Regions from separate parts of the Homo sapiens genome. Here region 1 is reported to be linked to region 2. Evidence: microRNA targets listed by miRTarBase, many of them from high-throughput screens and not tested one by one. Region 2 holds a microRNA gene; the other region holds the end of a gene's coding sequence. Distances are from middle to middle.

Evidence for each region. The annotated mature microRNA hsa-miR-302a-3p reads UAAGUGCUUCCAUGUUUUGGUGA and lies in region 2 at 2,479-2,501, shown strand. An mRNA with a match to its seed (bases 2 to 7 or 8) in the 3' UTR can be bound and repressed. Matches are read on the target gene's strand: a 7mer-m8 pairs with bases 2 to 8, a 7mer-A1 pairs with bases 2 to 7 and ends in A, and an 8mer does both.
Region 1: the mRNA of SLAIN2 is a reported target of hsa-miR-302a-3p. Seed matches in the 3' UTR shown: 7mer-m8 at 3,903-3,909 and 7mer-A1 at 3,073-3,079.

The regions. Positions count from the first base shown.
Region 1 is chr4:48,421,605-48,426,147 of GRCh38, reverse strand. It overlaps SLAIN2 (SLAIN motif family member 2), which reads right to left. Exons shown (of 8, transcript NM_020846.2): 8 at 1-4,137. The coding sequence ends at 4,071. Among named protein-coding and RNA genes, the nearest start is that of SLC10A4, 59 kb to the left of the region's middle.
Region 2 is chr4:112,646,687-112,650,686 of GRCh38, reverse strand. It overlaps MIR302A (microRNA 302a), which reads left to right and starts at 2,436; the gene lies at 2,436-2,504. It overlaps LARP7 (La ribonucleoprotein 7, transcriptional regulator), which reads right to left. Exons shown (of 13, transcript NM_016648.4): 5 at 3,732-3,896; 6 at 3,560-3,653; 7 at 3,138-3,488; 8 at 2,853-2,997; 9 at 1,001-1,152; 10 at 105-226. It overlaps MIR302CHG (miR-302/367 cluster host gene), which reads left to right and starts at 636. Exons shown (of 3, transcript NR_146092.1): 1 at 636-695; 2 at 2,088-2,174; 3 at 3,719-3,967. It overlaps MIR367 (microRNA 367), which reads left to right and starts at 2,746; the gene lies at 2,746-2,813. It also overlaps MIR302D, MIR302C and MIR302B. RefSeq lists an enhancer at 1,094-1,816.

The DNA.
Region 1 (4,543 bases), 64 Mb from region 2:
AGACCTTCTACCCTTCCACTTAACATGTCATAACCATGTTACGGACAGTACTTCAATATTTCCGGATTATGGGATTGCAGACAACTATCATTTTTTACCTTTATACTTTTTAATATTTTTAGTTTATGTTCTACAGCAGAGTTTCTATTACTTTCGAAATCAGAAGAAACAGATTTTTTTATTTCTTTTAAAGAGAAAACATTAAGATGACTTAATGTAGATAATTTGTTTCAAACTAGCATTCAGTTAACATAGTTTTAACCAGTTTGTATTACAGTAAATAAGGCCGATGAGTATAATCGGTTTCATTTTCAGACTGGTAAGCAGAGGGCCATTTAGCCACCCAAGACTTATATTTAGGATCATTCAAAATACATCAGTGGTTGAACCTCCATATGGGTTTTTCTGTTGCACTGAGTATATAACAGGTTTAAACTTATGTATTGATTTATAATACAAGTATAGTGACATTTAATTTTAAATGGCTCTTCAAGTTTTTAGACTGGCTTGAGAGAAAAAAACAGAAGGGTGTCTTTTTTCCCTCTCATCACTATTAATCTAATTGTAACATGTAATATTATTTTAATTGTAATTATTCTAATTGTAACATGTAATTGCAAAGCAAATATCTCCTAAAGGAATATGGAGAACTCATTAAACAGTGTACAATTCTTGATTTTTCCATCCATACAAGAAAAGATGCACGTGATCACCTAAATATTCGCATTTGGTATGAAAATGCATTAATTGTCCCTCTTGGAAACTCATAATAGCTTTTTGCTTGTTTTTTTCTAACTAGATACCATACATAGTTATGATCTAGGCAAATGCTAGCTTTTTATAACTAGGTATCAATTCACAGCAGGTAAAAAAGTTCCAAGAACAAATCAATTTAGAGTAAACTGTAAATTTCCTTCAAGTAAAATCCATATATGAAATAACTCTGACAGAGAAAATATAAGACATAATCCAACCCCATGAAGACTAAATCTGAAAGGGCAATATGATTTGGGTTTCTGTGGTTAAAGAAAAACTCAACTGAGTAATTTATTAAAACCAAGTGTAGGCAACTGAGAGGAAAAAAGGAATCTTACCATATCCAGAGATTAATTAAACACTTAAAGAATATAAATTTAATAATAAACATTATGGTCAGGCTGTTTATTAAGGAGGCAACCACATATACAAGTTCGGCTATAGAAATGTTTGCAAATCAAACGTCATGTGACCTTAAAGGACCATGCTTAACGTCAAAAATGGACACCTGTACATTCAATAAAAAGTTAATTTAAACATACATAGTCTAGATCATTCTAGAGTTATACAAACATCTGGGGCCACATATGTATCTAATTTTCTTTCAAAAAAACTTTTTTTTTTTATAAAAGTGATGTATTGAGATAATTTTAAAAAGTATCTGACAATTATGAATGGTCCCCAGTTTTACAAAATGTGATTTCCAGGATACGAAACTGAAAAAAAGTCAACTCTTCAGAGAGTGTTTTATATTGTACAAACAAGTTTTGTAGAAAAATGATCCAGCAAATGCTTGAGTTAAGAATATTTATATTTTTTCCAATTCTTTACACTTTTATTAACACACTTACAAAAAATAACATTCAAACACTGAGAAAATTAAATAACTTTGGAAGCAGAGCTCATTGTTTTCTGCTTACATATAAGTGACAATTCTGGGCTGTTGGCACAAAATAATCAACATTCATAAAACCCTTACTACTATATATCAAACATAAGTTAAAATCATAGGCACTAGTTTATCAAATCCACATTTCTTCTGTAAGACTAACCACAGTAAATCCTTAGATTTTCCCAAACAGAAAAATTGCAATATACAAAGGCTTTCTAGTAAAAAGGCAATTTTTCTCTTTAAGAAACTAAAAGTCAACAGTCTGTGGTAGTACAACAGCAGGTAAAATAATACTTTACCAAACTCAGATCAAAAATATGTTTTAACAAGTGATGAAATATTTTAATAAAAAAAAATAGACATTTTTTTCTGATGCAGCCATTTAAAAACAAAGTTAAATAACCTGAATACTCCTTTTGAAACTGATTATCTAACTTAAAAAATGTAATATGTTTCATAATAGGTAAAATTCCTTTTAATTATTAGATTGCAGCATATATATTTTTTGAAATGTTGCACTGAAAACTGAGACTTGTTCTGTTTTGTACGTGGTTTTTAAAAGAGACAGTAGCTACTTCTTTCTTTTACTTACTTAGACATGAGATACCCCCCTCCCAAAAGAAGATGCTTTATCTTCCTCTGAAAAGCAACATTTTTTAGTTCATTATCATGTAGAATTCTGGCGCCATCCTTTCCTGACCCACCCCATCACCCTCAAATTCAAGGATAAAGTTTCTTCCTTGCATTATACACCAAATACATAGTACTGGCAGTTTAAATCTCCAGCTGCTTGTGCTAAATGAATGACTCTCCACTGGTCAAGCTGACAGACTACCATGGTGTCAGTCATGACAGAATGGAGGTCCTGGTTTTAAGTTTTTATCATCAACCTATCAACCTTAATGCTGTCCAGAATATCAAGCCTTCTATTTCTCTCTCCCAATTTCTTTTGCCAACTTACGGAATGTCTTTGATTAACAGGAAATGAACTTATGTTCAAATCTCTAAAAGCTTTTAGATGACCTAAGTGACAATATCTTAGAGCTGTTCAAATTAAGTATTTAAAAACAGACCTCATAATAAAAAATGAGAGGCCTGCTACAGAAGCAAGTTTTACTCTGGTAAAAGTCTGATAAAATTGAAATAGCCGATTTCAAGGATATATTAAGAGCCATTAGAGAGCAAGTATCAGGTTAGAGTCATACGTAGTAGGGTTTTTTTTTTACCAAAAATGCAAAAATTGATGTAAGGCAGAATCTAAGTCAAAAGGAAAAGAATTTTCAATAGATGTTTTATACAGTTACTCAGTTTAAAGTGGATCAACTTAAGTAGGATTTAGCAGGCTATATTTTCCTACCACATAATAGACCGTTATGCCATGTAATAGCAACAATACAACTGTCATCACCAGAGATTTTGTAGGTTAAGTGCATAGATTTTTTTCCCCCTCTCTCTCATGGTATGGTTTTGTTCCAGGTTGCAAGCACCGAGGTGGTGTTGTATCAAGAATAAAGACACACACTACTTGTTCTTTCCTATCATGAAAACCTGCTAATAGAAACAAGATCTCTTAGTTCTGTAAAGATAACAGCATGTGAAGAAGTTGGCTTCAATAGCAAAGGCCATCTTTCCTGAGCCAGGAACTATAAAGTTCAGAAAGATTGTACAACTGATATTAAGCCCTTTTGGCAATCAAAACAAACACACACAAGTTTGATGTGTCAATGCAACATGATGGATACATGCTGTAACACTATCTGGTGGTGGTGACATGTGAGCTACATCCAAAACTTAAGATTAAATGACAATTTTTCTTTTCTAATGAATCTGCAAAAATCATTTCTGAAATTCTGCTAAATTTAGGAATGTTTTAATCTCTAGCCCAGGTTTCTTTCCTCCCACCCCCTAATCTCAATCTGTAGTTTCCTGGTGTACTAGTGAAACACTTTAGATAATTAGTCAGAATATTAGTTCTCATTAACACAAATATTTATTGATACTATTTATACAGTAAATTAGGTTGAATGTGAAGTTTTGGATAGCCTGAATTCACCATTTTCTTGTGCACAAATGGGCATTTTTCTCATTTACAAATGGGCATTTCTCTTTGGCATCCATTAGGTATTTGCCCAGATATTGGCCTCTGTCAAATATTTTTTAAAAATCAACCTAGTTTCTATTAAACAAAACTAAAAGTGATTCTATGGAGAGTGATTGTATGATTACCAAACACATCTGATGTTAAATGTCATTAAAGTGCTGTTTGATGATCTCTGTCGGTTTGTGCTAATTAAGACAGAGAGGGCTGGGATTTTATAAATCCCAAGAGTCTTATCTGAACAGTCTGCATATAAAAGTTGTTTTTTAGCCTGGTGAAGGGTATCCATGAAGCCGTGGACTTCTGCATTCTTGTCTTTGCTGGTCAGTAACAGCCATCTTTCCAACTGTCATCTTTCATGCTACCATAGGTTTTAGGAGCTGGCAAGGATCTGTAATAAAGCAATTTTGTAATTAAAATTTGATAAATGTCTTTATGAAATAGTACCATACTATCTCACACATATATTAATTACTCTTCAGGTGGCATCACGATCCCATGAAGGCCGTACCAAGTCCTAAGCTCTAAACAGGTACTAGTACAACCTCCCCACACTCTGCATTTTCACAACTTCCAAGTTTTACTGGGCACCAGATGACTTCCCATTTTGTTAACATAGCTACTAGATAAAAGAAAGGAAAAGATGGTCTCACCTTTTCCAAGCACACAGATAACCAACCTTATCATTTACTTATTATTTTGAGAGGCAGAATGATGAATGTGATATTAGAAGCTCAGTGTCAGCATCACTAGAAAGGCAGTATGGGACAGTGATTAAAAGAGCTCCAAAGTCAGAC
Region 2 (4,000 bases):
AATTCTAACTTGATTTGTTTTATCTTCCATATTCAAAACATTTTCACACAGGGAAATAATAAGAGAAGAAAGGAACAAATACCCTAGGGGCTCAAAATCATTACCCGGACTTGTTTCCTGCCAGGTAGAGGCTCTGTGCTAATGATCTTCACAATCACTCCACTCACGAACTGTGGTCCTGTTGCATTAACTTTCTCCTGGGTGCGACACTCTTCCCTGTTGGCTGCTGATTAGAAAAGGAAAAAGACCAGGACTAAATCTCTTACACTTAACAACAATTTAATACTTAGGAGGACTACCTTAGAATAATTCCTGAGGCAGATTTAAATAATTTAAAACGTATTTAATTTTAAAGTAAACAATTAAAGGTTATATGTCATACTGCTTATTTCAAAATACCATGAATAAAACTCAGAAAGTTTTATTATTCTACATGCAAATTGTTACTGCTAGAAGAGCATTCGTAAAGCCTTTAAATTTGCCCCTTCTCCCTGAACAAAGGAACAGTAAATTTTTACTCAATAAAGTTAAAAAAAAGTTAAAGGATACTGTGTTTTAAATACATTATTATTCAAACGTGAACATTTATTTTTACAAGAAATGAGAATTTAAAATGTATCCTAATTTTGAATTCATAGGAATTCTGCTTTAACTTGTTCCTGCTTGTGGTGCATACTACAGAATGAAATTAACAGGTGAGAAACTACAATCTTCATTCCTACAAACTTGCTCAGTCTGCAAACTCTGCACTCATGTGCTTGATGAAAACTGTAGAGAAAACTCAGGTTATTTAAAAAATTGTTTTAAATGAGCCTTTTAAATATTCTTATATCAAGAGTAAGTAACACATCTGGATAACTTAACAAATCAAGAATTGTTCTAATAATGAAATAGAATAATCAAGTTTTTTAAAATTAAAATTTATCTTATAACAACTCAGAGATAGCATTTACATATATAAGTACATTATAATGTTGTCAAAACTATCAGTGATCTTTACTTTTTTCATTTTTCATTCCAGTGTTTTGAGGTACTCCACTGTCTGTTTCCATTTCTGACTCTGATTTTATTTGGGATATTGTTTTTTTTAAAGAAGCCATGCTAGCTTTTTGTAGCGCTAAATACTCTTTTTTCAAATCCATCCATTCGCTCCTACAAGGAAAGAAATGGTGATAACAGATGACTAAATATAAAAAGTAAATAGGGAAATATCTAAATATATACATTCACAATGACTTGGAGCAACTCCTCCACCAACTTTCCTGTTTCTTTAAACACATATTCAAAATATTTCCTAGGTTCTAAAGACATTTAGCAAAATAAGCTAAGGGAGTTCCTCTTCCCCCAATATTCAGATTAAATGTTTTAAGATTGCCAATTAAATTTTTGAGTGTCTGAAGTATTTTAATTTATAAAAGTAAAATTTTAGCATTAATTCCTTAACTAGTAACATTTACTAAATCAGTCATCTCTGTGGGAAAAGGGCGAGATTAAAGATTTGTTAAACTGCTTCCAATTTGAGAGATAACATTCCTTAGTATTTACTTGAATCAAAAAGAATTTCTAAGTAGAACAAAACACCCCGTGGAAGCAATCTATTTATTTACATACATTTAACATGTAGATGCTTCTTCAAACAGAGTTCCTCCAGATAGAAACACAATGCCTTTCTCGGCTCAGTGGGAGCACTCATTGTTACCCTAATCTATGCCATCAAACAAGCAGATAGGAGATTTTCTTTTTCTTTTTCTTTTTTTTTTTTAAGAGGAAGATATCTTGTGGTAATGGTTTTAGCTGTTAACATTGACATCTGTATACTTCAAAAAAAAAAAAAAGGATCCAGACCCACCCAGGATCATACATTCCCTGAGAGCTGATACATTAAAATAACAAAAGGCCCTTGTAATGATTCTCTGAGATAAAAAGGCAAAAGGAATTCAAGAGTTAAGAATAGTATAAATAGAAGTGGCTGAAGTCCCTGCCTTTTACCCTTCTGGAGGAGAACACGAATCTTTGGGAACTAGTTCAGGAAGGTAAAAAAATTTTTTTCTTCTAAAGTTATGCCATTTTGTTTTCTTTCTCCTCAGCTCTAAATACTCTGAAGTCCAAAGAAGTTGTATGTTGGGTGGGCTCCCTTCAACTTTAACATGGAAGTGCTTTCTGTGACTTTAAAAGTAAGTGCTTCCATGTTTTAGTAGGAGTGAATCCAATTTACTTCTCCAAAATAGAACACGCTAACCTCATTTGAAGGGATCCCCTTTGCTTTAACATGGGGGTACCTGCTGTGTGAAACAAAAGTAAGTGCTTCCATGTTTCAGTGGAGGTGTCTCCAAGCCAGCACACCTTTTGTTACAAAATTTTTTTGTTATTGTGTTTTAAGGTTACTAAGCTTGTTACAGGTTAAAGGATTCTAACTTTTTCCAAGACTGGGCTCCCCACCACTTAAACGTGGATGTACTTGCTTTGAAACTAAAGAAGTAAGTGCTTCCATGTTTTGGTGATGGTAAGTCTTCCTTTTACATTTTTATTATTTTTTTAGAAAATAACTTTATTGTATTGACCGCAGCTCATATATTTAAGCTTTATTTTGTATTTTTACATCTGTTAAGGGGCCCCCTCTACTTTAACATGGAGGCACTTGCTGTGACATGACAAAAATAAGTGCTTCCATGTTTGAGTGTGGTGGTTCCTACCTAATCAGCAATTGCGTTAACGCCCACACTGTGTGCAGTTCTTGGCTACAGGCCATTACTGTTGCTAATATGCAACTCTGTTGAATATAAATTGGAATTGCACTTTAGCAATGGTGATGGATTGTTAAGCCAATGACAGAATTTAAACCACAGACTTACTTTGATAGCACTCTTAATGGTATAACTTCTTCTCCCATTTTATGTCTCTCTTTATGTTTTTTCTTATGTTTCCTTTTTGTTTTCAAGAGAGAGCTATCTTTTAGATCTCCAGTATCCTTTTCCTCTTCAGTAGAGATTTCTATATCTTGAAATAAATAAAAAAGCTCTCCGTTAAGACATGGGGCTGTGAAATGGGTGAAACAGAAGCCAATTAAAACCTAATTAATTAAAAACTAATTAATTAAAATTAATTAGTTTTATCTAATTAAAACCTTGTAGTTTTACCTCTATTTTCCTTGGAAGCTTCTGATGCTTCCTTAATGATGTCTTTCTGAATAATTTTCTTTACTTTTGATCGGGGAGCTAGGGATTCTGCATCTTCAGAGCTGCTTCTCTTCCTCTTCCCTGTTCTGACTTCAGGTAAGCTAGATGCTTCAACTCTGTCCCGTTTTTTCTTTTTCTTTGAGCACTGCTTTTGGGGTTCAGTGGACTCAATGTCAGAGCCCTCAGATGTGGGTCTGGATCTTTTCATTTTACTGATGCTGGTGTTGCTTGTGTCCATGTTTTCTTCTTTGGCTTGGATATTGTCTTCCTTTTTCATTCGGCCTTTCTTCTTCTTTTTCTTTTTCTTCTCTTCTGTAAAAGTGCCATCATTATTAGTTCATCTTACTTCAACTACACCTATTTAAATATTGAAAAATACTCACCCACAACTCTTAAGGCTGGAATGGGCTTATTTTTCACTGTTTTAGGAAATATGCCAGGTTTTCTTGGTGCTTCTTCTGGTGGGTTGTTAAGAAACTGAAATGATTGCAAAAGTTACTATTTTAATACTTGTTTTCTTTTCTTTCTTTTTTTTTTTTTAGGATCTGGACTTACCTCAATTGCTTTTGCTGCTTGTTCTTTTGTTTCAAATTCCACAAACGCAAATCCCTTTGGATCTCCAGTAGACTTATAATGTGGTATACTTATATAAACAACATTGCCACATTTCCCAAATACTCTTTCAATCCAGCTGTGATTAACATTTTTGGGAAGTAACTCCTATTATAAATTAAAAGCAATATTAGAGTTTTTCACAATCAGAATGTCAATAAATTTTTAACTTAATTATATTGTTTCTGTGCCAGTTTCTGACTGGGGACCCG